Regions from separate parts of the Homo sapiens genome. Here regions 2, 3, 4, 5, 6 and 7 are each reported to be linked to region 1. The links are microRNA targets in miRTarBase. Many come from high-throughput screens and were not tested one by one. Region 1 holds a microRNA gene; each other region holds the end of a gene's coding sequence.

Evidence for each region. The annotated mature microRNA hsa-miR-627-3p reads UCUUUUCUUUGAGACUCACU and lies in region 1 at 1,577-1,596, opposite strand. An mRNA with a match to its seed (bases 2 to 7 or 8) in the 3' UTR can be bound and repressed. Matches are read on the target gene's strand: a 7mer-m8 pairs with bases 2 to 8, a 7mer-A1 pairs with bases 2 to 7 and ends in A, and an 8mer does both.
Region 2: the mRNA of FAM13C is a reported target of hsa-miR-627-3p. Seed matches in the 3' UTR shown: 7mer-A1 at 3,154-3,160 and 7mer-A1 at 3,118-3,124.
Region 3: miRTarBase lists KLHL14 as a target of hsa-miR-627-3p. Seed matches in the 3' UTR shown: 8mer at 2,840-2,847, 7mer-A1 at 2,518-2,524 and 7mer-m8 at 1,814-1,820.
Region 4: miRTarBase lists DSE as a target of hsa-miR-627-3p. Seed matches in the 3' UTR shown: 7mer-A1 at 665-671 and 7mer-A1 at 889-895.
Region 5: the mRNA of VN1R1 is a reported target of hsa-miR-627-3p. The part of its 3' UTR that is shown has no 7-base or 8-base seed match.
Region 6: the mRNA of LVRN is a reported target of hsa-miR-627-3p. Seed matches in the 3' UTR shown: 7mer-A1 at 944-950 and 7mer-m8 at 1,027-1,033.
Region 7: miRTarBase lists IGSF10 as a target of hsa-miR-627-3p. The part of its 3' UTR that is shown has no 7-base or 8-base seed match.

What each region holds. Positions count from the first base shown.
Region 1 is chr15:42,198,017-42,202,086 of GRCh38, forward strand. MIR627 (microRNA 627) reads right to left here and starts at 1,650; the gene lies at 1,554-1,650. It overlaps VPS39 (VPS39 subunit of HOPS complex), which reads right to left. Exons shown (of 25, transcript NM_015289.5): 2 at 1,880-1,945.
Region 2 is chr10:59,244,085-59,248,154 of GRCh38, forward strand. FAM13C (family with sequence similarity 13 member C) reads right to left here. Exons shown (of 14, transcript NM_198215.4): 14 at 2,049-3,653. The coding sequence ends at 3,530. PHYHIPL (phytanoyl-CoA 2-hydroxylase interacting protein like) reads left to right here. Exons shown (of 5, transcript NM_032439.4): 5 at 973-3,686. The coding sequence ends at 1,507. Among named protein-coding and RNA genes, the nearest start is that of PHYHIPL, 69 kb to the left of the region's middle.
Region 3 is chr18:32,671,207-32,675,276 of GRCh38, forward strand. KLHL14 (kelch like family member 14) reads right to left here. Exons shown (of 9, transcript NM_020805.3): 9 at 1,467-3,591. The coding sequence ends at 3,451. Among named protein-coding and RNA genes, the nearest start is that of KLHL14, 100 kb to the right of the region's middle.
Region 4 is chr6:116,436,849-116,440,916 of GRCh38, forward strand. It overlaps DSE (dermatan sulfate epimerase), which reads left to right. Exons shown (of 6, transcript NM_013352.4): 6 at 1-4,068. The coding sequence ends at 497. Among named protein-coding and RNA genes, the nearest start is that of CALHM6, 22 kb to the right of the region's middle.
Region 5 is chr19:57,451,983-57,456,052 of GRCh38, forward strand. VN1R1 (vomeronasal 1 receptor 1) reads right to left here. Exons shown (of 1, transcript NM_020633.4): 1 at 2,808-4,070. The coding sequence ends at 3,443. Among named protein-coding and RNA genes, the nearest start is that of VN1R1, 3.1 kb to the right of the region's middle.
Region 6 is chr5:116,025,599-116,029,665 of GRCh38, forward strand. LVRN (laeverin) reads left to right here. Exons shown (of 20, transcript NM_173800.5): 20 at 380-2,008. The coding sequence ends at 520. Among named protein-coding and RNA genes, the nearest start is that of ARL14EPL, 4.8 kb to the right of the region's middle.
Region 7 is chr3:151,432,999-151,437,062 of GRCh38, forward strand. IGSF10 (immunoglobulin superfamily member 10) reads right to left here. Exons shown (of 8, transcript NM_178822.5): 8 at 3,205-4,064. The coding sequence ends at 3,691. It overlaps MED12L (mediator complex subunit 12L), which reads left to right. Exons shown (of 45, transcript NM_001393769.1): 45 at 1-3,655. Among named protein-coding and RNA genes, the nearest start is that of IGSF10, 26 kb to the right of the region's middle.

The DNA of each region.
Region 1 (4,070 bases):
TATGGCGAAACCAAGGCCCAGGAACATTAACTAATTTGTCAAAGGTGACATGATAAAATGATCATAGGGCAAGGAATAGTCGCCACCAGGGTTCCAAGCCAGATTAACACTAATATTACCAGTTCAGGTCTATACTGTGTTGAGACTTCATTTATAAAGTCTTGTTTTCAATTTCTGATCACCACTTACATGTGAAAGCAAAGCAGAGAGTCAAAAAACAATTGTTGAATGCTGAATAAGATAAGCATTTTTAGCTTTAAAATTAAAATGTGAGCTTAATTTTAAAATTATAGACCAGGCAAATATCACAGAACGCAAATATTTTGGCTCCGAGAACTAAAAAAAGAAATTTTTTTTTGAGACAAAGTCTGTTGCTGAGGCTGGAGAGCAATGGTGTGATCATAGCTCACTGCAGCCTCAACCTCCTGGGCTCAAGCGATCCTCTCACCTCAGCCTCCAGAGCAGCTGGAATTATAAGCACGTGCCACCACATCCAGCTAATTTTTTGTAGACAGGGTGTTGCCATGTTGCCCAGGCTGGCCTCGAACTCCTGGCCTCAATCATTCCTCCTACTTCAGTCTCCCAAAGTGCTGGGATTATAGGCATGAGCCACTTCACAGGCCATGAGAATTAAAAATTTAAAACATTAAAACAAAGATCAACAATGTACTGCTCCAGGGCCTAACTGAGGCCTTTGCATGTTTTTGTAAATAAAGTTTTATTGGAACATAGCCATACCTATTCATTACATATTGCCTACAGCTGCTTTCATGTTACAAAGGCAGAGTTAAGTAGTAACAACACTGCAAAGCCTAAAATATTTATTCTTTGGACCTTTTCAGAACAAGTTTGCTGACCCTGATTTAGAGGACAGTTGAAAAACTTAGAAATGAAATAAATTATCTATTTTGTTCTCTGGTTTCTTTTCTTACCCTGCTGCAGAAACTGACCAGGATATCTTCTCTTTCCCGAGTGCACTAGTAAGGTGCTTTTTCCCCCAGTGTTACCCTTGCTCCAGGTTCCACAAGAGAGCTCTATTTATCTTAAGCTATCTCTTAAGCTATTTACCAGAGAAATATATATTATATTGAAGGGTATGAAATTAACTGCAGATTTCTGTAGAGTGGCTCCAGGGCATAATACCTAAACACATCTATTCTCCATAAAGAGAGCACAGAAACGAAAACAAGGAAGGGCAGTGAGGTACTTTCTGCCCCAATAAAAAACACTCTTTAACAGAATACATTTCAAATACTTTAGTTATTACTCTACATTACTGACAGTCACATTTGATTAGAACTTTAGTTTTCACAGTTTCTTCGAGCCTATTATTGCATCCACCCCAACAACTTTGTGGGGCAGAGAGTTTATAGAAAACTGATGTTGGAAAGAACTTGCTCACGGTCACGCAGCCAGGGGGAAGTGCACATGAAGGCAAACCCTGGTCCTCTCTTCTTGTTCTACCCCTCATAAGCCAACAAGATATTTTAAATCGATGTTGCCTAATTTTTTTTCCTACCACCACACCATATATACAGGAAGCTTATGCCCATTAGTAGTATTTCTTATTATTGGTAGTGAGTCTCAAAGAAAAGAGGAGGAAAACAACCACCTCCTCTTTTCTTAGAGACTCACTACCAGTAATAAGTAATTCAGTAATAAGTAAACCAGCAATTCATCCTCACCTCCCAAATGCAGGTAGGGCAATACAATTTGGAGGAGAAAAACCCTAGGCATTCTCAAGTCTTCTCCCCATTTTCCCACCGTGCTCCCTCTAACCTTCAATCTCTCTTTTAATGGTCCAGGAATAACTGATTTCACAGTTGTATACTAGCTGACTATTAAAACTTATTTTTTTGCATGAGCAATGTGCACTTACCAACGTCCTTCCGAATCCTATAGAGAAGAAGATGTCCTTGTTTGGTTCCCACAAGAAGCCATTCCTCTGGAAAAACAAAACAAAACAAAAACAAAAACAAAAAAAAACCAGCTTTGAGAAAGGTCAATCAGCTTGAGTATAACCCTATTTTTTTAGCTGGGGCTTGTAATCAGAAATCAATGTGTCAAGAAAATGAGTTGCTTTTGATAGGAGGTGTTTTGCAAAGCTAAGAAATGTTTATACTCATGTTTGAAAATCAACCATTTAAAAACACATTTATTGAATAATTACTAGGCTAGACATATCAGAGGATAAAAATGTCCTGGCTCAATTGTTTTAATGTTAAACTAATAAAAAAGATAGAAGGGCTTTGTATTTTTAAGATTAAATTATTATGATTTTTATTTTTTGTTATATATACTTTTATTAAGATATATATCTTCAGATATATATTTTTAAATTCTGCTAAAAAGAATATGATGAAAGTTTATAAAATCACAAAATGGAAGTACAAATGTGAAACCAGGTATCCAACCTCAGCAATAATAGCTAAGAGGCATCCTTTAAATGCTTTTACTTTCAGGAAAATAAATGACGTAACATAATAAGCTTACAGAATTCATTATCTCAAAAGATAGTCTAGTAGAAAATATTTAATAACAAGTGTTGATGAGAATATAAAGAAATTAGAATCCTCATACACTGCTGGCAGGAATGTAAAATGGGAGAGCCACTTTGGAAAAGTCTAGCAGCTCCTCAAAAGGCTAAACAGAGTTACCCTGGGACCCAGCAATTCCACTCCTGGTTACACACCCAACAGAAATGAAAACATATTCTACACAAAAACTTGTACACAAATGTTCACAGCAGTATTATCTGTAATAGCTAAAAGATGGAAACAAACCAAATGTCCACCAACTGATGAACGGATAAACAAAATGTGGCATGTCTATATAACGGAATATTAGCTAACAATGAAAAGAAAGGAAGTATGGATATATGCTACAACACAGATGAACCTAAAAACATGATGCTAACTGAAGGAAGCCAGACAAAAGGCCACGTGATTCCATTTATATGAAATGTCCAGAGTAGGCAAATCCACAGAGGTAGAAAGATTAGCGGTTGCCCAGGGCTGGTGGGCTTGGGGGAAAATAGAAAGTAAATACTAATGGGTACTGAGTTTCTTCTGAAAGTGATGAATATGTTCTAAAATTTATTGTGCTGATAGTTGCATAACTCTGTGAATGTACTAAAAACCATTTAATTGTACACTTTTTTTTAACTTTTATTTTTTTAAGATAGGGTTCTACTCTGTTGCCCAGGCTAGAGAGCAGTGGTGTGATCATGGCTCATTGCAGCCTCCACCTCCCTAGCTCAAGTGATCCTCCCACCTCAGCCTCCTGAGTGGCGAGAAATACAGGCATGCACCACCACGTTCAGCTATTTTTTAAAAAATGTTTATAGAGATGAGGGCTCACAATATTGCCCAATCTGGTCTCCAACTCTTGACCGCAAGCAATGCCCCTTCAGCTTCCCAAAGTGTTGGGATTACAGGGGTGAGCGACTGTGCCCAGCCAAATTGTACATTTTAAAAGATGGTCTAGGCTAGTGGTTCTTAAACTTTAGTGTATCACAATTATTTGAGAGTTTGTTAAAATACAGAATGCTAGGCTCTACCCCGGAGCATCTGATTTAGTAGGTTTAAAAGTAGGCCCAGGAATTTTCATTTCTAACAACTTCCCAGATGATGCTGATGCTGGTGGTTCAAGGACCACATTTTGGGAGGCACTGGTCTAGGTAAAAAGAGGCTCAGAAAGAGTTTAAATAATTACCCTGACAGACCCATATTACATCATTCAAGGAAGGTAAGCATGTACAGATACTTCCTTAGCTTTTTGATAACATAAAGGTCACTCATTCCTTTCATAAACTCTCTTGATTCTTGACCTCTGTAAAATAAAATCTTGGATAATGGTACAAATAGATAACTTTTATTGAGCATGTATTGTGTTCCAGGAAATGCTAAACGCATCTGTTATTTCACTAATCCTCACAACTATCCCTTGAAGTAAGTCCTTTTTTCAAATCCCCATTTTATAGATGAGGAAGTTGAGGCCTAGGGAATATATAACTTTTCCAGAGTCACACATGTGGCAAGCAGCAGAGTTGGGATCCCAACCCCAATTTG
Region 2 (4,070 bases), not on the chromosome of region 1:
GCCTCACATTGGTAGAACTGAAATGGAAGTGGCCAAGGGATAAGGAACTGAATGCTAGAGTCCCAGGTCACAGTGGAGGACTGTGGTGGAGAATGAATGGATTTGGGGGTGAGGTAAAGTGGGAATAACTAGCACTGTTTTAAGCAAAATGCCAGAGAAATAACCTGATTACTGTCCTTGGGTTAAAAAGCCAAAACAAGGGCTGAGCGTGGTGGCTCATGCCTGTAATCCCAGCACTTTGGGAGGCCGAGGTGGGCGGATCACAAGGTCAAGAGATCAAACCATCCTGGCCAACGTGGTGAAACCCCGTCTGTAGTAAAAGTACAAAAATTAGCTGGGCATGGTGGCATATGCCTGTAGTCCCAGCCACTCTGAAGGCTGAGGCAGGAGAATTGCTTGAACCTGGGAGGCAGAGGTTGCAGTGAGCCAAGATCGTGCCACTGCTCTCCAGCCTGGCAACAGAGTGAGACTCTGTCTCAAAAAAAAAAAAAAAAAAAAAAAAGCCAAAACAAAACACAACGCTTTTGTGCCAGTATAAATGGACAGCACTCATTTTATGACTAAATCTATCATGCTTTAAAGAAACATTCAATATATTTAACCAATACCTTTAGTTCAGTTTTCTCTTCAGAAAGCCACTTCTGAAACCCAGTTGGCACTTAATGTATGTGTGATTTTACCTGTAAGGTTTCTAATTCCAGTTTGATTTTTCTGGCCAGGAAATTTACATTATTATGTTAATTTAATACAAAGTCTCCAAGGCTTGTAGCAGCTCATCCTTACCTTAAGGTCAAAGCTAGAATACAGCCATCTATAGGTAATATGTCAAAAGATGTTGTCCCCTTATTCTGATAGTAAGAGAGGTATTCAGGCCTTTAACAGTAGATGTTTGACTTTTAGGCCATTCAAATATATAAATCAGTGGGTTTACCACTATTGTATTAAGCAGTGACCACTTGTTTTCTCTTGCAGAGAACATCATGGGAATGCTATGCAGCCATCTGTCAAGGATAACAGTGGTAGCCATGGCTCTCCTATCAGTGGAAAATTAGAAGGCATCTTCTTCAGCTGCAGCACTGAATTCAATACTGGAAAGCCACCCCAGGATTCACCTTATGGAAGATACAGGTTTGAGATTGCCGCAGAAAAACTTTTTAACCCCAATACTAACTTATACTTTGGGGACTTCTACTGTATGTACACTGCTTATCATTATGTGATTCTTGTTATTGCTCCTGTGGGATCACCAGGAGATGAATTTTGTAAGCAGCGCCTTCCTCAACTAAATTCTAAGGATAATAAATTTTTGACCTGTACAGAAGAAGATGGGGTGCTGGTTTACCACCATGCCCAGGATGTCATTTTAGAAGTCATTTACACTGACCCTGTGGATCTTTCTGTGGGCACCGTGGCAGAAATCACTGGTCATCAGCTCATGAGTTTGTCTACTGCAAATGCAAAGAAAGATCCCAGCTGCAAAACCTGTAATATCAGTGTTGGACGTTAATGCCCACTTTTCTTATTCTTACTCAGCCCCTTTTCCTCCCTTAGGAGCATTGGTCCTCTGTTGTCCATTTTTATCACCAGATGTTTTCCACTGAAGCATGCACATGCCACTGTCACCAAAACAAACAACTACCACTTTCCAAATTTCATTCAGAACCATTTTAGTGTTTTCCTATTCCCTACCCCTCCCACTACTTTCAATGATGAAATACCCTAAGTTAAGTTCTCCTTTTGACACTTTATTGCCTAGATGCTGCAATGTTTTTATGTTTCCTTTATGCCAAACATAACAAAACAGTTATATAGACTGCTTTAGCAAAGTACACAATAATGGCTTATAAATGGTGTTTAAATATGCATTCATTTTAATCTACTGAACAAATATTGGGATAACTCCAAACCGCATGAAAGGGTGTAATTGCAGCATGAGTTAAATCTTGAAGCCTAGAATTGTCAGCACTTCCAACTTCTTGTTTGACAGTGTTATTTATGTTATTTATATTAGCTAACAGGAAACAACTACTGTGTTTCAACATAATAAATATAATAGAAAAATATTTTATTTGTATTGTTGTATAAAATATTTACAATCATATAGAATATATAGAGTTACATTTTAATAGCAACTGTGTACATGTCACGAAACCATTTCCCTTATCAAAGATGTAATTTGTAAACCTCAAATAGTTGTGTATCTGTCCTGTTAGAAGTAGATGACTTCAATTAAACAAATTTATGAAGGACATTATTCTGATTCATAAAAGTTATAAAATATTAGGTAAATACAGAGAAAACAATAAGCCTCTGAAATAAGTCTGTTTCTGAAATAGTCAATAGTCTTCCCATCCAAACTATAAGAGAATGTGAATTTCTTCAACATCATACTTAAACATTACAGAAAATAGAAATACAAACAAGGTTGGTACATGAGAGAAAATGTTGACCTTTTACTTCCTTTTACAAAAATGAAAATAATAAACATGTTTTCGTATAAAATAACACAAAATGATATACACTGAAGTTGATGAAGCAAATAAATATTCTGGCTTCTTTTTCAAGGTATCAGGGCAAACAATTTCCAAACTTTTCATTTTGTACAGAAGGATGAATAACTACAGCTCATGGGAAATGTTTTGACTTTACAAAGTATAGATGTTGGAACATTAAGAAAAATGTATATTCCCAATGAAAAAATAGTTATATCATCTTATAGTAAACCAAAAGATTAGCAATAATACTATGGACACATTAGATTATATACTACAGACACATATCTATCCAAAATACCTATTTTAAATTTTTAATACAATATTTTATTTTAATATAAACATCTGTCAGTTATAGACAAAGATAATAATTCACAAAGTACATGCTATCAGAATGAACTTTGGTAACCAGAAATGTAAAATTTCAAATAACGGATAAAATAATGTGTTATTTTTATAGAGAAAGAAAAAAATAGCAACACAATCTAGTTTATTTTAGGGTACTGAGAGCCTAGCAGACTTAAAGGACAAGGTAGTAAATGTTTTATCACTCAAAAATCCATTAGAAGTTTCAAATAAATTGCTTTCTTGCTAGCTGTATTCCTTCCTACTTGAAAAGCGAATTTCTTTTCCTCCTATGATTGATTTTTTAAAATCATGCTCTTTTCCATACATCAACATAAACAGTCTTTGGATACTAAATAAACTTTCCCTAACAAGTGTCCTAGCTATGTTATTTAGATTTGATAAAATATTAGACATTTTTAAAAATACTTGTATTGACTATGAGTTTTCTGCTTGGCATGGAGGACACTGAATTTTTTCCCAATTATATGGCTACCTGTTGTATTCTTCCCCCCGTTTAAATCCCTTCTCCTTGTATATAATTAAACTTGCTATTCCTTCTTAAAAACAGCTAATACTACCACTAAAGTGCTTCCATTTTCATTGTGTCAAAACTACTTAGCAAGGATGGCAGAGGAAAATAAACTTTACTTTATATCATGGGTGAAAGTGATCATAACATTTCCTGAACCTCAAATAGTTTTGGCCACATCTTGCTTGCTGATGAGGACCTCTAATAGTCTCAGTTTGGCTTTTATGTGCTTATATTCATAATACTCATCTGCCATTGGTATCCTATCTTCCTTTTGTGGACTTCTGCAAAACAAAAATACATTTGTTAGTTCACAATGAATCAAGTCATTATTTAAACATTCTTTTATAATTCATACATGAGAAAGTATACTGTAACGGCCTCCACTTGGTTTTTGCATCATGTCTTCTTTTCCTTCCCTTTCACCTTCATTCACTCCTTCTTCCATGTGTTACTAAGTTTCTAAATAATAGTAACCTTTGAAAACTTGAATGTCATAAGTGTTTTGCAAATATGTGGTCTAGTGCTTAGACTTACAACAAAGGGGTCAGTGAAAAGATCTAAGGAGAAGCAAACAAACAAGAAACAGAACTTTCAAGGCATTCTTTGTCCAGTCATTCTTCCATTATTTGCCACACCCCTACAGCTGTACAAAATGATCAGCCCTAATACAGTTGTTAAAAATATTAACCTGAAAATAC
Region 3 (4,070 bases), not on the chromosome of region 1:
CTTCTTATTGGCATAATATTTTCCACTAAAGTTTTAATATCCTCAAGGTTAGGTGCTTCTAGAAAGTCAGGCATGATCAGTCATGATCGGTCCTTTCTGTGAGAACTCAGTCTATCAAGGTACTCATCAATGTGTATTAGTTGGCTTTGGTGTGCTTTACTACTCTTGTTTTAGCTTATTTATTTGTTTTTAAAAACTATTTTGACCTAAAGAATTAAGTTTAATCAGAAGTCAGGCATTTATAATGATGCTCTTTGGGATATTCAATGAATACTTGATACTTACCATGTTGATAATGATGATAGTTTGTTAAGTGATATAAGTGTCAAGCAGCTGGGAAAATATGACTTTGGCTGAATAGGGTAGAACAAATGCAGACACTAATTTCAAGCTCACAGACACAGCTTAATTAATTTTAAAAATCTGGTCTGTATATGCATTCTTCCAGTTTTAGTCAGTTTTAAGATGTATTCTTAGAAAAAATATCTTTTTTTGTCCCCTCAGTATATTTCCACTTTACCCAAAATTCCTTCAAGTATTAACTAACTAAATATAAAACATGAAAGTACAGTCTAGCGAGGGACATCAAGTAGGTGGCTTATTGGGATTAGGAAAAAGATAAGCATGCCTTCTTAACATCTCATGATATTTAGTCAGCACTGGAGCCTTGGGTATTTCAGGGGATTTGGAGAAGCCCTTCAGCAACTAGCCATTGGCTCAGGAGAAGGGTCTTCTTTCAGTGTGCTACTCTAGTATGTGGAGGAGAAGATCCAATGGAAGGAGAAAGAAACTCCATTACTCTTTCTTGTGGAATATTAGGGAGAATCAAAATATCCTCTAATTTTGAGTTTAATCATCACTAATGATAGATTTGGCTGGGAAGCATTAAAGTAAATTCCCCCCAGCTTACAGGCTTCCGAACGTAGCTCCTGATCTTACACAGCTCTTTGCCTGGAAGGCTGCCCAACTGCTACCCTTAACTGCAAGCCTTAGTTCCCCCTATGTCTCCCATAGCCCCTCTAATTGCCCTGTACAACTACTTCATCAGATCTTCAAAAGAGAATAAAATTAAATACTATGTATTTGATAATTGATTTAATTAAATGTGTGACTCACTTATTCTTTAAAAAGGGTGCAGTTATTTTTAACACAAATGGTGCTTCTAATAATGTGTATAAATATTTAGTTATTTGATCTCAGATAAGTTATGTCTTATTATAACACTCTTGTAGTGAAAACATCAGATTCCACTCATATGATTTTTAACTCACAGCATTTTCCAGAAGTATTCCATAATTTTAGCACTGTCCATACTGTATACATTTACATATTGTGAGAAAGCCAAATAACACTTGTAAATCACAGCTTCAGAACAAAAATATTTAGGCATTTACATATCACAAACCTTCAAACGGTTTAATGTAGAGATTTATACATATGTAAGTAGGATATGAGAGACAGTTGAATTAGTACATAAAGTTTTTATTTAAAGTTTTCCCCTTCCAAGCAAGCTTCATTTACACATTCTAATACTGTACAAAATTTACATTCTCTGTGACTTATTTATTCACTTTTCACTTTCTAGTAACTTATGTCTCTCTGAAATACAGAAAGCTTTACTTATAATTCTCATAAATGCTTTTATTTTGGTGAGAAATAAAAAATAAAATGCAGAACAAGTCTAAGGAAAGCAAAGGTTCTTGTACAAATTGTGACTTTTGGAAGAAACAGTGACAGTTGACAACAAAAGGTTCTGAAGCAGACCTCATTCTATTCATGATGTCAGCTGAGATTTTCCCACAGAGTACTGTAACTTTTCTTTCTATATACTCATATGTTTTAAGGAAAAAGAAATGACAGTTGATTGCACTGGATATACATATATTTATATATATATATTTTTACAACGGATCCTTTGGATCTGAACATACAAATAAATACAAAAACAACGAAGATTGCACTTTACTGTAGAAACGGCATCGGATTCCAGTATACCCATTTATCTTGACGTGCTCTGCCATGAAAGCTTATCACTAAGGCATTTTTCATCTGTGGGATTTCCCTAATTACTGTTTTGAATGACACATTTGTTGAAGGATTCAACACCATCTCTGGATGGTTAAAATATATTTTAGGCTTTTATTTACTCCTAAAGTTGTTGTTCAAGCTCTGGAGGGCTTGAAAATCGAATGTGCATTCCTGTCAGTTTTGTCCTTTTGGTTGGCCACATTGAGACTATCTCATGCTATCCTGACCTTCTGCTCCTGAATTCCTCATGCTCCTCAAGACAACTAGCAATTGCTCGCTTAACTGAGTTCAGGCATCTCTGGTGATAACAAACAAAATATGATGAATTGGGGGAATAACGATCGTAAGTCAAGTGTCTAGAGGCACCCGAAGGTGAGGAAGAGGAGAAGTATTCTGTCAGGTGCTATAATTGGCTCCTGTGGCTCTTGTAAGTTCTGTGTTTTAGAAACAGAAAGACAACTGGAATTCTACTTAATGGAAATTATTCTTTCTTTTCATCCCTGAATTCCTGAAAACAATCTCCCATTTTTTTTTATTATGGATTAAATTTGGGTCAGACATATCATCTAACAGAATCTCTAAAATAGTATTGACTGAATTTGTCAATCCTGTCTTTTGAAGTAAATAACATGTGTGTTCACTACTTATATATCACAAAATATGAAAAAGCACAAACCTCCATGAACTGAATAGTGACATAATATATTTTGTTTTAATCTTTCAGATAAAATTGAGGACACAGAAATGACGACTCTGTCTAGCCTAGAACCTATAGGGTAGAAAGCATTTATTACAAGAGCCAACATCTTTCTCTTTTCTGATCCCATGAGGTGCTGTAAGGGCAGAAGGTGTATGAAATGAAGTTGTATAGAAACGAAAATGCCTCTCTTTAATCTTACATGATTTTCAATAACAGTGTTGCCAATGGAGTCTGTGAAGTAGCCAAAGGTTAAGAGTACAGAATCAAGTGGCAATTTCTGTAATGCAGTGTATTTTGGTGGCTCAAATTTGGAATCATTCTTGAACACAATATCCCCGAAATGTCAACATAGATCACATGCAGGTAGACTACAATGCACAATACTGATCTGAGGTCTCTCTGGGGCCAGTCTTCTGTATTTTATCTTTCTCCTTTTGCAAGTTAAGATTCACATGAAGAGTTTTTGTAAAGCTGGGATAAGTTAAAACCAGTCTGAAATGGAAGAGTCTGTCACCACAGGAAGTTTGGTGCGATCTGAGTTATAGACATAGTATCTGTTCAAGAACAGGTCTCTTTCTTTTGTAGTTACTTATAAATCATCAGAAACCAAGGGTGGGTTTTGGCAGTTGTACCATTAGAATGCATTGTTCCTATTATAATAGTGATGTCACCTGCCATTGCTTCCTAGAATGTGATACTGTTCATTCCAGAGTTTCCTGGTGTTATTTGTTGTATGGTACACAAGAGGGCAGAATAACTGTCACACAGGCAGGGCCTGCCAACGGTTCTGCTACATCTCCTTCGAGTTCTGTCCAGGTTCCTTTCTCTGGACAATAGCATATTGTAGATGACTTGTAGGCCCCCTGTAATGACAGAGGAGGGAGCATTTAGAGAAGGAAGCTAGAGAAGTGCAATGGCAATGTTACTGATCATATTTATTAATATATTGAAAAGAAAATATCTGTTCTCCATTCTTGCTAAATAATTCCAAATGAAAGCAATGGATTTTAAACTGTTCTATTCCAAAGAAAAAGCTAAGATTGACAAAATTTCAAAAAAAATTTTTTTGTGTGTGTGACTAATAATAAAAGTTAAATAAATACCTAGAGGATCCTAGATGCTCAACAAATCCTAAATTGGCTGGGCCCAGTGGCTCATACCTGTAATCACAGAGCTTTGGCAGCTAGGGCGAGAGGATCACTTGAGCCCAGGGGTTTGAGACCAGCCTGGGCAACATAGCAAGACCTCATCTTTACACACACACTAAAAAAGATAAAAACAAATTGGGCATGATAGTGCACATCTGTAGTCCCAGCTGCTTGGGAGGCTAGGACAGGAGGAT
Region 4 (4,068 bases), not on the chromosome of region 1:
TTGCCATATCACAGCAACAGCAGCAGCAAAGCAAGTCAAAGAAAAACCGAAGGGCAGGCAAACGCTATAAATTTGTGGATGCTGTCCCTGATATTTTTGCACAGATTGAAGTCAATGAGAAAAAGATTAGACAGAAAGCTCAGATTTTGGCACAGAAAGAACTACCCATAGATGAAGATGAAGAAATGAAAGACCTTTTAGATTTTGCAGATGTAACATACGAGAAACATAAAAATGGGGGCTTGATTAAAGGCCGGTTTGGACAGGCACGGATGGTGACAACTACACACAGCAGGGCCCCATCACTGTCTGCTTCCTATACCAGGTTGTTCCTGATTCTGAACATTGCTATTTTCTTTGTCATGTTGGCAATGCAACTGACTTATTTCCAGAGGGCCCAGAGCCTACATGGCCAAAGATGTCTTTATGCAGTTCTTCTCATAGATAGCTGTATTTTATTATGGTTGTACTCTTCTTGTTCCCAATCACAGTGTTAGCACTGAAGCTATAAATTACCTGGTCATTTTGTGATCACAAGAGTCTATGCAAAAAAAAAAATTTCTTTACCCCAGATTATCAGATTTTTTTCCCTCAGATTCATTTTAACAAATTAAGGGAAGATATTTTGACACAAGAAAGCAGGAACGTGGAGAAATTGGAGCAGGAAAAGAAATTATCAAAGCAATAGAAATAGCTTGGTGGTCCTATGGTGTTTTTGGAAGTATTTGGCATTGCTAATTGAGCAGTCCATATAGTACTACTTTTAGAAGAAACAAAAAGTCTATTTTTTAAAGTAATGTTTTTTCTTATGAGAAAAAGGTTTAGATAGAATTGGGTTTTATTAATATTAATTTAATGCTATTAGCAATTTCCATATACTATATTGTGGAAAAGACTGAAGAATACAATTCTGAGAAATATAAAAAAATTTTAATGGTATACTCATGTTGAAAGATAAATGTTGCTAAGTCCTGGTATGATGGTGTGAGCTTCCTTGGGGAAGTACTTCTTGAGTTATGTAACTAACAGGATGTTTTACTACAGATCTGGATGGCTATTCAGATAACATGGCAAAAAATGATAGCAGAAGATCATTAAAAACTTAAAATATATTTTATTAGAAAACATTTATCTATGAATGAATATTTCCTTGATGCTGGTCTCTGCACACATATGCTTGGTTACTTGCATGCATTCATTGGTTGTTCAATAAGTGAGATGATTACAGATAATACTGTATTTTCCTTATATGGAAAACCGTTATAGACCCAATAACAACTAAACCTTTCAAAAGAAAATATTTTCTATTATGAATGTTGATTTTCATACCAAAGAAGATGGAGAGTCTAAAATTTGGATATGATTCTTATGTTTTTTTAATAGAAAACCTTCTTCAAGTTTATTTTCCTAAATAAACATCATAATTGTGAATTTTCTCTAGTATTCTTCTTCTTTGTTCCATTATATTCAAAATGCATTAACATTTTCCAAAATTTTTGAAGAGAGATCTTTATTTGGACGTGTATTCATTAAATATATAAAGTAGTGTTTGAATCAAAAGAAGTATTTTCTCTGCTTATTAACCTTAATTGTTGTTTAAGCATATTTTAAATATTTAAAACAATAGCCAATTCTGATATTTAAGTAGCACCCAACTTTTAAAAGCATAAAATTTTCAATCAACTCCTCAGAAGGTAACAGCAGCATAGAATACTAGAAAAATAATCCATAGTTTCTACTTGAGCATAAGAAAATGATATACTTAAAAGGAACTTAATAAATTATCATACATTCAGCATATTTGAGTCATATATTTCTCCTTTGAAACAAAATATGTTCAGCTCAAATTTTACAGTAAGGACACACTCACTGATTTATAGGTGTAAAGTAACAACAGTAACCTTTCCTCTTACTTGCTCTTTTAGTTCACAGCAATACCAGTATGTAACCAAAAGACAAGCTAGAGAAACTTTTAAGTACCTTTCTGCAGTTCTAATTTGAACCTTCTTGCATAAAGAAAACACAAGTTTGACTTTTAACTGTGCTTCACTTATTATGCTTGGAATCTAGAAAACGACTTCTGAGGAAGTAATTTTTTTCCCCTCTCATGGAAAGTCTCTAGGGAGGATGTCATTACACACTGTTTAAAAGAATAATGTTTTCAAAAGAATAATGCTTCCGTTTGTCCTGCATGGATGCTCTTACTAGGATTTAAACTTGCTTTATGTGACAGATTCTCCATTTACTTAACCTCACTCAACATTCCTCTCTTTTACTCTTTCTCACTCAAAAGGATGAACTGTCTGAAATGATCAAAAGGAAATTTTGAAAGAAAAAAAAAAGGAAAATTATTCTTTGAGGTTACCAAGCAAACCTGATCTCAGATCCAAACTGAGACATACTTTCTAACAGAGATGAAAAGTGCAAGTGAGTGCCAAACTCGCTTTTCTTTTGTTTTCATTAGGTTAAGGCTTGACAATACGTTAGTCGCCACAGCATGATCCAGTGTAACATATTAGTTCATTTTAAAGTAGTCTTTTTAAAATACGCATCTTTAAAACAAAATGAATTAAAATTATGTGTTTTTTTTTTTTCTTCTAATGAACCTGGTATTTATTTCCTTAAAAAGAAACTTCCTCAGGCAGTGACTTAAGTGGTTAAGTGAAAAAAAAAAATGCTGAAACAAATCACCCCTCTTCATAATGAAACATGTTTTTTTTAATCAGGGATAGTGCATATTTGAGTAAAACTAGGGAACTTTTTGTAACTTGAAAACAAAGCAATGTTAAATCTCCCTTGAAACTGAGTAATCAGTTATGGAATCTGTTTCAATGCTGCTCACTATGACAGGAATGTTTCAAGTTCATTTGATAATATGTGAGCTGTTGTTCAGGGGATTGGCAGGACTCTTGGTCCTAGCCTTAAAGAAAATTTGAGAATCACTAGCATACAGAGCTTGTCAGTGCAGTAAAAGTGGTATATTCCTGGGAAGCTGAGGTGGGAGTATTGCCTGAGCTTAGGAGTTCTGTGCTGCAGTGAGCTATGACTGTGCCACTGCACTCCAGCCTTGGAGACAGAGTGAGACCGTGTTTCTCTCTTTTTTTTTTTTTTAAGTATATTCCCTTGTTTATAACTGATTAGCTTATTTCAGTTGATGGTAGATGAGACCTATGGTGGTGGATGAGACCCAGAATTTTCAGAGAGAACATTCTTTTGACAACATTGTTTTAATCGTCAAAGTCAGGTGGAAGACCGTGTTCTGGAACTATTTTAATTGTTAAAATGTATCACCTAAGATAATGAATTCTTCCACAAATATTTTAGTCATAGTTTTTAAGTACCACGTATTCTAAGGTTATCAGAAAATATGTCTTAACAGAATGTTTTGCATACTGAATAATTTGTTTTTGAAAAGGAAAATTTACATTTGACTTACTCAGTTTTTAAAAAATTATTTTTATTTCTAGAGACACGGTCCTTTCTGCATCACCCAGGCTGAAGTGTAGTGGCGTGATCGTAGCTCACTGCAGCCGCAAACTTCCCATCTTAAGCGATTCTTCTGCCTCAGCCTTCCAAAGTACTGGGATTAGAGGCATAGGTCATCATGCCCGGCCAAGTTAAAAAAATTTTTGATAGTTCACAAACCACTCACAAAAGAATCTGAAATTTCTCCAAGTGTTAAGAGAAAGCAAGCTATGAAATGCTATATTTGTAGGCTTAAAAGTAAATTAGTGTGTTTTCTTAAAAATCTAAACCAAGATTAAAATGAATATAGTCATAGGTATGAGGGGCATGTAATTTATCTTCCGACTGGAGATACCTTTGAGAGTTAAAGGAGGAGCAATTAATTGTTATTCCAGGACAACAGATATAAATCGAGATTATACTAGGTGAACTGGGACATATGGTCATCTTTGTCATAGCTTAATTCAGGAAAAAAGGAGTTAGGGAAGTCTGAAGGTCTAACTCAAAGTTTGATGCTTTTTAAGCAAGTTTAGGGAACTTGAGATGACCTGATTGAGACCCCTAAATCTACAGATGAGGAAAGCAAGCCTCAAGCAAGGGGGG
Region 5 (4,070 bases), not on the chromosome of region 1:
ATAGTCTGTACAGAAACAGTGATTGTATTAATATGAAGTATGAGACACCAGCAAACTAGAGTGGAATGGATGAGCGCCTTGTAAAGAGACATCCATGAATGTTTCAGTAACTATGGCTATGTGAGATGAGGGTATACAGAAACTCTGAGGACCTACAGACGTGTGTATCTCCTGTAGGCAAAGTCATTGTCAGAGCAAGTAATCCAAAGGTGTTATGGATTCTTGTGTCTCTGGCGTTATAAAACGTATGTTGAATTTTAATTGCCATTTTAACAGTGTGGAGAAATGGGACCTTTAAGAGGTGATTAGGTCATGATGGCTCTGCCCTTATAAAGGAATCAATGCCTTTATCATAAGAGTGGGTTTGTTAACCCGAGAGTGACGTTTTTATAAAATCAGCTGTCTCTGTCTTTCATGCTCACTTGCCCTTCTGTCATATTATGACAGAGTAACAAGGCCCTCACCAGATGCCAAGCAGATACCAGTGCCATACCCTTGGACTTCCCAGCCTCCAGAACTGTATGAAACAAACTACTTTATAAATTACGCAATCTGTGGTGTTTTGCTATAGTAGTGGAAGACAGACACAGACATAAAGCCTGTTAATTCAAACCACTACTGCACAGGTAGGAGCCTCATGACTGAATGAAGGGAGATTCTATACTTCTGAGATAAGTCTTTTTTTTTTTTAAACCTAAACATAATTCCTGGTGACTCAGGTGGACATAACCTTCCTTGTCTCCAGTTCTTCTTCCCCGAGATTCTGAATTTCCAACAACATTGCTTCCAGTTTTTGATACTATAAAATCAGAGTTGACCCACGTAAGACATGAGGAGAGGCTAATGATGGAATCAACACAGCTTTGCCAGAGGTTATAAAAGAGGATTGAGAAATCCAGATTTTATTTGGAATTTTTCTTTTCTAACAGCTTTATTGAGGTATTAGTGACATTCAGTTGCACATTGTTAAAGTGTAAAATATATAAAAACAATCACCAAAGTCATGATAATAAACATATCCATTGCCTCAATAGTTTGTTTGTACCCTTTTCTATTCTCTCTCGCTCACAGTCCTACCCAAATTTTTATGCTCAGGTAGCCACTGGTTTACTTTATGTCACTATATACATCTTTCCTTCCTTCCTTCCTCCCTCCCTCCTGCTCTTTTCTTTTTCCTTTTTTCTTTTCTTTTTTCTTTGTTTCTTTCCCTCCCTCCTTCTCTTCTCCTCTCCTCTCCTCCTCTCCTCCTCCTCTCCTCTCCTCTCTTCTCTTCTTTCTCTTTCTCAGAATTTCACTCTTGTTGCCCAGGCTGGAGTGCAATGGCACGATCTCAGCTCACCGCAACCTCCACCTTCTGGGTTCAAGCGATTCTCCTGCCTCAGCCTCCTGAGTAGCTAGGATTACAGGCATGCGCCACCACGCCTGGCTAATTTTGTATTTTTAGTAGAGACGGGGGTTTCTCCATGTTGGCCAGGCTGGTCTCGAACGCCTGACCTCAAGTGATCCACCTGCCTTGGCCTCCCAAAGTGTTGGGATTACAGGCGTGAGCCACCATGCCCGGCCTATAAATTTTCTAGTATCTTATACAAATGAAATCCTACATTACATTCATATGGAGCATTTTTTGATATTTATACATGTTAAGCGTATTCATTTTTTGTTGATGAAGAGTATTGCATTGAATATACCACAATTTATTAATCTATTAATAAATATTTTGATTGTTTCTAGTGTTGGACTAAAAAACTAACAAAGACCCATGAACATTCATATACAAGTGTTTATATGAATATATTTAGCAGAATTGCATTTGTTATACCTCCTTGTCCATGATGGTTATGGTGTATTTTAAAGATTAACCATTTTCATAGATGTGTTGTGGTCAGTGTGGTTTTTAAATTTGCATTTCTCTAATAATTAATGATGCTGAATAAGTTTTTATATGCTTATTTGTTATCTGTATATTTGGCCAAATTTCTAAATCTTTTCCCTTTTTTTAAAAAAAAATCTTATTTTTCTATTTTAATAGAGTTTTAATTTTAGAACATTTTAAGATGTACAGAGAAATTGCAAATATAGTACAGAGATATCTCATTTACAAGCACACCTAGTTGTTACTAATATATAGTCATATATTAGTATACAGCATTATTTACAATTAGTGAAACAGTTTTGATACATTATTAAACTAAAGTACATCTTTGATTGAGATTTCCTCAGTTTTTACCAAAATACATGTTCTGTTCCAGAATTCCACCTAGGATACCACATTGCATTTATTTTATTATTTTTTATTCTTTTATTTATTTTTTTTCATGTGTCTCTAAATGTAACCACATTACAGTTAGTACTCACATTTCTTTAGGCTTGTCTTGCTTATGAGAATACTCATTTATTTTGATATTGATTTTTAATTTTTTTTTTTTTAGATAGTCTTGCTCTATTGTCCAGGCTGGAGTGCAGAAGCACTTTCTTTCTTTCTTTTTTTTTTTTTTTTTTGAGACGGCGTCTTGCCCTGTCTCCCAGGCTGGAGTGCAGTGGTGGGATCTCGACTCACTGCAACCTCTGCCTACTGGGTTCAAGGATTCTCCTGCCTCAGTCTCCTGAGTAGCTGGGATTACAGGCACCTGCCACCATGTCTGGCTAATTTTTGTATTTTTAATAGAGATGGGGTTTCACCATGTTGGCCAGGCTGGTCTTGAACTCCTGACTTCAAGTGATCTGCCCACCTCAGCCTCTCAAAGTGCTGGGGTTACCGGCGTGACCCACGGTGCCCAGCCACTTTTAGTTATTTTTATTTTTATTTTGAGTCTCCCTCCGTCACCCAAGCTGGTAAGTAATTCTCGTGCTTCACCCTCTGGAGTAGCTGGGACTACAGGTGTGTGCCACATGGTTGGCTAATTTTTGTATTTGAGACAGGGTTTTTGCCATGTTGGCCAGGCTGGTCTCGAACTCCTGGCCTCAAGTCATCTTGAGTGGATCACTTGAGGCATTTGGGAGTGCCTCAGCCTCCCAAAACGGTGGGATTACAGGCGTGAGCCACTGTGCCCGGCCTGCACATGTCTTTCTTACATGTGGACTCTCCAGGGGATTTATGCTGTTCAAGAAGCACCTGAATCAAACTGTGCTTTAAAAATATTTTTAAAACATTCCATGATTCTTCATAGTACAAAAATGAGAAATCTCCCCTAAATCTCTAAAGAATTCCCTTTTTAAACTTTTTGATTTCCTGAACTTGTCTGAAGGACTTAACACAGTTATATAGAGTGTTCTTTGTGTAACAGTATCCATGACTTTCATTTTTAGCTCTGGTATTAGATCTTCCTGGACAAGAGCATTACTGGCCATGTGTATGTTGCTATCACAAATAACTAGTAGTTAATATTTCCTAAATCTTAGCAAGAGTTATGATAAATAGCTGAATTCCATGAAGAGAAAAGACTCATGGCATGACAACCAGATTAGGAAAGAGTGTTTTCCTTGTCCTGCAGGCAAAACAGAACTGAGAGATATGAGTATCACTCATGATGAGGACAAAAGGGCTGCGTGCTGGGAAACATGAGGCGACCAACACAGAGTTGGTCACTATCCACTGGCCTGGGTTTGCAACTACAGTTGTCCAAATTGTCAGAAAACTATGGACTGAATAGAAAACAAAAAAGGAGCTCACCAGGACCATGATGGTGTGTGTGGCTCTGGCTTCCTGGGAAGGTCTGCAGGAGAGTCTGTTGCTGTGATTGTGTTGGACTTGCTGCTTGTGTCTGTAGAGGAAGAAGACCATGGAGCCACTGGCCCAGACCATGAAGCCCAAACTCATAAAATCAGGGGAAAAATATAAGACTGCATGTAATGAGCTAAATCTCTTTGATGCTTTGTAAGAACAGTATCCATAATTGTTTTTTGCACTACTGTTTTTGCTATTCAGTGGGCCATTCACTAATAGAAGAACAGATGCATTCATCAAGACATGGGGGGCCCAGCAGAGGAGACAACAGAAGTCAATAAACCTTGGGGATCTAATCTTGATCTCCATCCACCTGCATATACTGGGGTTGAGCTTAATGGCTTGG
Region 6 (4,067 bases), not on the chromosome of region 1:
TTCGGAAGTTGCAGTTTCTTTTGAGATTTTTAAAAAATTGGGGGGGTTCACTGTATCTCTGTCTGCAAATCTTAGAGAACACTCTATATGCGTTCAGTAAATATTCATTGAGACTCAATATGTGCTTTGGGAATAAGGCATAGTTTCTGCTTCATGCACCTTCCTGTCTACATCTGCTTCTTTGGGGTAGGTGTGGTGTTCATCACATTGTCTCAGTCACAGTCTCCCCAGGGACACACAACCTAGGAGTATACATTTCTACTCATTCCAACCATCATCACCAATTTACAAACTCATGTTGCTACTTAGCATTTAGACATTTACTTTGTCCAAATGGGAAGTTGGATTGCACTGATCATCTGTCTCTCTGTCCTTCCAGCTGCAGCAGTTTTTCAGTAACATGTTGGAGGAACACCAGAGGATCAGAGTTCATGCCAACTTACAGACAATAAAGAATGAAAATCTGAAAAACAAGAAGCTAAGTGCCAGGATAGCTGCGTGGCTAAGGAGAAACACATAGCTTGTGGCTATCTTTCAGCACTCCTCTTGCATATTATAATGTAGTTTGTTCACAGTTTTGTCTTCCAATACTTTGTGAGTCTGGAAAACCACACATTTTATTTGTATTTCAGTCACATTTATTACTCAGAGTGCCATTCTTCTCATATTGTCATGTTTGGCCCTGAGGGTGGGTGATTGCTGACAATTTTGCCAATGCTGCTGTATTTCTGGGAAAGATGTCACTTCATGTTGGGTTATAATCCCACAGAATTTACTTTAAATGTCACGTAAAAACAAATTCACCTAAGATAGTCTTGCTTATTTTGTTGCGAAGGCCAGTGGAATATAAAAATCAATGGCATTAATGAGGAGCACATTCTTTGCTGAGGGAAATAACAGTTTTTCCAGGCCCTAGGGTTTATTTAGTTCAACATTGAAGATTGAAAAGACTAATGAGAAGATAACATGACAATATAAAAAGACAGAAACTCAAAAAGTATATTCACTAGAAGACAGTGGAGCCAAAGAAAAGCAAGTTGAAAAAGAAAGAGGAGACAATTTAACGAGCCCTAAAGGCAAGAAGTGTGTCTTCTCCTGCCCATTTCTCTCTCCCACAGTACATCCTGCATTGAACCACGTGTTGCTGGTTACTAAACTTTATGGTGTCACAAAAAGACAAATGATTGTAGGATCCATGGAAGTGCACTTAGGCTTGCTGTGGTGGAGGCCATAGTGGAGATGAAGGCTCTGCTCTGAAGCTCTTAATTGTGTATTCACCAGTGGGATGGACACCCTTTCAGCCTAAGCGTACGAGTGAAAACAATGATGTCAAAAGACAATAGCAAGTATAGGCTACTATTTAGGGCAAAAGGAATCTTGAAATGAAAGAAACAGAACTAAAAGGCTAACTGGAGCATAATCCTTACAGTTTTGCACTCAGGGGATTAAGTTTGAAACATAGTGTCTTTTGGCCAAATTGAACCTACTTGTAATGTGGACCAACTTACTTTACACATTTTCATCAGTCCCAATGTATGGAATTAGCTTAGTTTTCTCATGCTTGATTAAAACAAGACAACTAAAGCTAATCATTCCTCTTCTAGACTTTGTGTATATGATTTAATCTTTTATTTTTATTTTTGTAGAATGGGGGTAAAACTACAAATCTCCTCCTCAGGGTGATATTTTTAAAGATTAAGGAGTATGACATCAATTAACAGTCTTTAAAGATGTTACATACGCTCAAAGCAATGTGATTAAGACTTTTTGCCTATTTCTTGTATAAGTTAAGGCAGCCATAAATGAAAATACAAAACAAACGTTTGCTTTTGTATTTGATTCACAAGAGGATTCTCCCTGAGTGTCAGGGGAGGCTGTGGGACTTCACCACGTGGACAAACGAAAGCACAGGCTACTCAGACTTGGCCACAGGTCATAGGTCAGAGAATTTTTTCTTCAAATGTAGAAATGTAAATTTTCAGCAATAAAATATCTGCATGCCTACAAAGTGTTGTAGCTGAGATACCTTCCTGTTTTTTTTCTTAAACACTCATTCTATATTTCCCATATTTCCTCTGATAATGAATCTCATCTTTCAATAACTTTGTCTTCACTTGTCCTCTCAACTGCTTTTCTCTTCCTCTTCTTCTTCTGTGTCTTAGTCCATTTTGTGCTGCTGTCATAGAATACCTTAGACTGGGTAATTTATGAAGAACAGAGATGAGTTTCTTACCATTCTGAAGGCTGGAGATTCCAAGGTCGAGGGGCCTGCATCTCACTAGGGCCTTCCTGCTGTATCATCCCATGGTACAAGGCAAGAGGGCAAGAGAAAGAAGAGGGAAGAGGACTGAACTCATCTTTTTTATCAGGAACCCTCTCCCAAGACAACTAGCCAACTCCCATGATAACAGCACTAATCTATTCATGAAGGCAGAACCTTCATGACCTAATCACCTCTTAAAAGTCCCACCTCTCAACATTGCATTGAGGATTAAGTTTCCAACACATGACCTTGGAGGGACACATTCAAGCCATACATAGCTCTCTCCTCTGTTTCCACTCCCGTTCTTTCTCTATCAAGCTGCCTCTTCCCTTCTCCCCTTTTCTCCTTTCTCCTCTTTCCAGTAATCTCTGCCTTACTTCTGCCTGGTTGTTCTTATCCTTGCTCCTTGATCTTCCTACCCAACCATGCTCTCAGTCCACCAAGCGTGCTTTGAGGCTGACACTCAGTGTCAAGAAGGCTCTGATGCCTGGTATTGGGTGATGCCAAGAACTACTGATCTTGCCAAAAGAGCATGTAGGCTGGTCTCTCCAGACTGTTAAAAGTTAAACTGAATCCTATTACATCTTAGCTTCTGTAGTAATTAAATAGTGCTGAAGGCGTTTCTCCAAAATCAAATTCCCAAATATTTAATTAATAGTCTTTCCTCTAAATATGGGGAAAAAATGGATGATATACCATTTTTACTTACTTGGATGAAGCTGGCTACTTAAGCACTGCATTTTATTATGCTTTACCTTATACAAACTATAAAAACAAGTAATTGTTGATTGGTTTCTGTGATAGCAATAATGCAGTAACAAGTCAGGGAGTGGTACCGAGGCTGATTTTCTGTGTGGCATAAATACTTTATTAACCAATAAAAACAGCTTATCTGTTAGCACCCCAACTATAAAATGATTTCCCTGACCCAGTCCATTTATTGTATACCTTTCATCTTGAAAATAATTAACAAAATATACAATATAGTCATGATTTTTTCCAATTTCATAATTCGAAATTAAATTTTTTCTCACAATCTTATGCTTTTTTTTTTTGCCCAACCCCATTCAGTGACTTGCCATTGTTGATTTTAAATGGAAGAACAGATGTCTTAGTGTGATGTTCAGCATTTTTTGTAATTTAGATCCCTGGGACCAATCTGTATAGCAATTTATTCTGGGGAAGGCATGAAGAAGCAAAGTGAGATGAGATTTAAAAGGTAGCTCGTCTTAGTTACTTTTCCTGTTTAATCCATTCTTTGCTCCAATAAAAGCTGTCTTTTTCTCATCCAAACTCTAGCAGGATTACCATGTTCAAAGCAAAGCCTTAGGGGATGCTTACAAGTAAATATAACTGCCTCCCCCACACAAAGAATGATTTAGCACAGTTAGCAGCATTTGAAACCATACATATGTTGCCTTTGGCTCATTCTTCTAATTCAACAAGATTTAGCAAAGGTAATCTGTACAACACATATATTTAGGAGTTATTTGGACTCTTCCTCTTCCCTTCCCTTCATAAATAAGTCAGTCCTAGAGGTGAAATAGAGCAAGGTGGCATCTGAACCAGTGGGAATTGAGGGGGAGCCATGGTGGCCCATGACCTGAAGTGGGCTTAAGAGTTTGAATGGGGTGAAGAAAGAATCCACACAGAGGAGGGGAGATCACAGTGGGATATCAGAACCCAGACAGGGTGAATAAGGTTACCACACGGTGGCGAAGGGAGTTATGACACGGTGACTTAGAGCCCAGATAGGGTGAGAAGAGTATCTAATGGGGGTTGTGTAACCCAGAATGGGTAGTTG
Region 7 (4,064 bases), not on the chromosome of region 1:
TTGAATTCACCTTTAAAGTAGGTTTACAAATGTGAATCATGCAGGCAGGCCTACTCCCGGAAGAGTGTGCTAGCAGACCTTTTGAAATTGGTGCTTTTTTTGAATCTCACATTTCTAGAAAGAATGGATTATGATGGATCTAAGGTATTTATGTATTTCATTCATTAATGATGACGTTGTTTTTTTTTTTTTAATTTTATTTTCCAAACTGTGCTGGACCAAACTACTGATTTGAAAGGCATGTCAGATCTTGACAGAAACATGGCCTGTTTATTCTGCATTCACCTGTGATGGTGAAACGGACATTTATTTGCATCGCTCTAATTTGAAATGTTTGTAATCTCATAAGCACTTTATAAACTTTGTTCTTATTTATGTAGGACTCTTCTTTGCTTTTGTTGTGGTCAAAAGGTGCTGAAACAGATTGTTGCTTCGTACTTAAACTTCTTAAACCAAGAACCTAAACCAAGGTTTCTTTGAGAGCCGCCCTAAGATGTGCGGAAACCTGTTAGAAGTAGCTGTACTCAAATTTGTTTTGAGGCAAGATCATTGATGAGAGTCATTGTGAAGGTACAACATGTAAATCCTAAAGGCCTGAAAGAACTGCAGTGGAATCGTCCAACTATTTATTGCCAGTTTTGGTTCTCCTGAACCTTATGCCACCTTAAGGGGAAAAAAAAATCCAGTAGCTGGCTTGAGATTCCAGTGCTCACACTTGACATGGTTTCCAGAGAATCTGGCCCCAAAGTCCAGAAGGCTCTGGTTTTCATAAAAGGTGTATTTGCTGTTTATTTTGTATGGTAAGTATTTGCTCTTTTGAATTTAATTATTACTGTCAGTGTCAGTCTTGGTTGTGTATTGCATATACTGTATTTATAAATTGGTGCAAAAAGCACAAGTAAATTATACATCAAATTTATTATAAAGAAATAGTAACTATTTTAACTTTGTTCAAGTATGTGGTAATTTGCTCCTATTAGAGTAAAAAAGAAACCAGTAAATTATCAGTTTGTGTAACTTAAGAGTATTCTATATAATATTTTTTTAGATTTAGATGCATAAAATTTTGAATGTGAAAATTGCAGGGCATTTTAAAACATATGTGGGGGATATTTTCCCATGTTCTCTGTTATTTCATTTTCTTTTGCCATATGATTTTACATATAATATAGTCAAGCATACTGTGAATAGACTTGTCTATAATGAGCAGACCATGTAAATCTACTTTTTTTAAAATGTAGCTAGTACAACTTTAGTAGACATTTTCTTTTGCAAATCATTATCTATAAATAATTTATATCTTCCTGGGTGAGTTACTCATTGCAAAGTTTGACTCATGCAAATGACCTCAAATACATGTCAGCTTACTTTGCTGTGGCAACATCCATGTGAACTGCTTTGTACACTGTGAAAATATTTCACTCCAGCCTGCCCATTTTGTGTTTACTCTGGGCTGGAAAAGACTTTGCCAAAACATTAAAAACTATTCTTTTCACTAAATTAATAGTCTATCTGCTTTCAGAAGATGTATCATCTATCTGTACACATTTTTGCTGGTTTTGTATATCAGATTTTTTCCTCTCAAGAAACATACTTAGATAAGCTAATGAAGTTGTTTTCTTCAAAGTAATATATCTATATAATGACTGCATTGGCAAATCAACCGAAATGTGAATGTTGTGCCTAGTGAGTGAGTCATGTTCCATCATTATTTCTTTCCAAATTTCTTTGCCAGTTCAGTTTGAACCATATATTTTGTAGCTCAGCATTGCAAACAACAGTAATACTGTTTTAAGAATGAGTGTTATAATTGCATAGCATTTGTATGCACTTTATACTTTGCAGAGGTGAGTTAAATTATTAATCATTTTGCACATGAAAGCTGTGGGGCATATCTTTTTTCTTTTTTTAGGTGAGGAAGTTATGCTACGACTCTAATTAATTCCACGATTCTATTGAAAGTTGAGGAATGCTGTTTTACCCCTGCGCATTATAAAGAAAATAACTAGAATTACTTTAGTCTTCAGATTTTCTCCCTGTTAATTCTGTATCTTGAGAGGTTTCTTTTTTTTTTTTTTTTTTTTCTTTTCTTGCAAATGCATTCTTTTGCATTAAGATGGTCACAAGGTAAAGCCCTGTGGCAGAACCTGGTACTTTACCTTACCAGAGGAAATTACCTTAGAATAAGATGGAGCGAGACCCCAGCTCCCCTTAAAGACAAGACCTTGAAATCAAATGGAGTCAGCTATACCTATCAATCAATCACAGTTCTTGGATATAAGAAGCCCATAGACTCTCTTGTTTACACTGTAGGCTTTTTCTTAATAGGGTTGCATTTGTCAGTCATTGCATTTACCCTTCTTGGCCTGGAAGTAGAGGAGATCAATGCGTAGCTTTGACCACTTCCAGCCACAGGGTACTAACATCAGACATAAGTTGCAACCAGGTCACATTTTAGGCTGAGATGGGGCTAACTGAAAGTCAGTGTGATGAAAACCCAAGGGCGCTATTCCACATGTCTCAAATGATTGGCAGGGGCTAACTTATTAGTAATTCTCGGTTTTGTGCACTGAGATATCTAAGACCTATGGCATTTTTTTCCCATTTATAAAGCTCCTATAATTCTTAAGTAAGTACTAGGTGAATGTTTGAATAGATGCTGGAGAAATTACACTGGAAAACCCCACCCCTAGATTTAGATAAGATCAATCATTTAATATTCCCCAAATTAATTCAGGTTGAATTAAGCATGTAATATAAATTCAGTGAATTACAAAAACACATTTTGTGTAGGATTGATCAGATTTTAAATACAGTGAAACTTCATTATATATAATAGACCTAGACCCTCCCAAGCATTTTCCCATCCCATAAAGAATTAATGAAATGAAATGCTTATAGAGCAACGATTCCTGCTCAGAAAAATTTCCTTATAAACAGCTCCAAACCAGGGGTGCCTGAGCTAGATTTTAAAGTTATAAAGAAGTTTCATTGTATTTTTAAAACCTTTTTAATGGGTGTATTTGGACAAAAATAACCCCCTTTTCACATTTTATGATGTGCAGGTATTACATTGCTTTTTACATGTGGAAAAGTGAGCCTGCATTTATTTTTAAATGCAGTTATTAAAACATTTTTGTATTCCCCATCAATGAAAATTTTCAGTGTGAACAAATGGTGAATCATAAGACAGTTCAGTGCTTATTTTCTGTAGGTTTTAGCAAAAAAATTTATAAACCACAAAATATTTATACATCAGGATGGTAAATTTACATCATAAAGATTGCAGATTTAATATTTTCCATTGTCTCTGTTCTGAGTGCCATGCTTGTAACATTGATAGGAGGTGGACACTAGGCAACTGGTATTAGAAGTTCATTTTTTTACTGAAAAATTCAGGTACATTAGCCATTTGTTATTTTATAGTGAACCGTTTCAATGTTTGTTTATTGTTATTTGTTGGCAAAATAAAAGTGCCTTAAGTTAAAAGTTTGTTTTGAGATCCATTAAATAAATCAGTATCATCAGTTCATAATGCATTTATTTACAAGTCCTTTTATTTTGCATGTTCATTGTAAATTTAATACTGTAAATGTATTCAAATTCATTTACATGCCTATGGCTGCCTTTGATTAAACTTCTTCCAAAAAATAAATTCTGCCCAGATGTTGTTGACTTTATTATTTCATGTCAGATTACTTGAATATACGTTGCTGCATAATCACTACCAAGTGGGTTCTTTGCTGTGCATTTGTATATCCCAGAATCGGAGGTTTGGGGATTCTGAATGACTAGGGTACCTTGTAAGTGAAGCTGCTCACTTCCATGTGTCCTCTCTTTACTTGCCGTTGAGAGAAGGGAGTGGTCAGGCATCTCCCATGTGATTTCTGGCTTGGGAACTCCCAAGGCCACACAGTGGAGCTGAAAGGCTGCCCCTGTCCTGGTGACAATACTCCTGGGTGGACGATTTGTAATTCGGGGAGGGTAGGCTACAATCATTACTGGAACAGTAATCAGTGTATGACCAACACTATTTTGAGCCTTACAGATATAGTTTCCTCTGT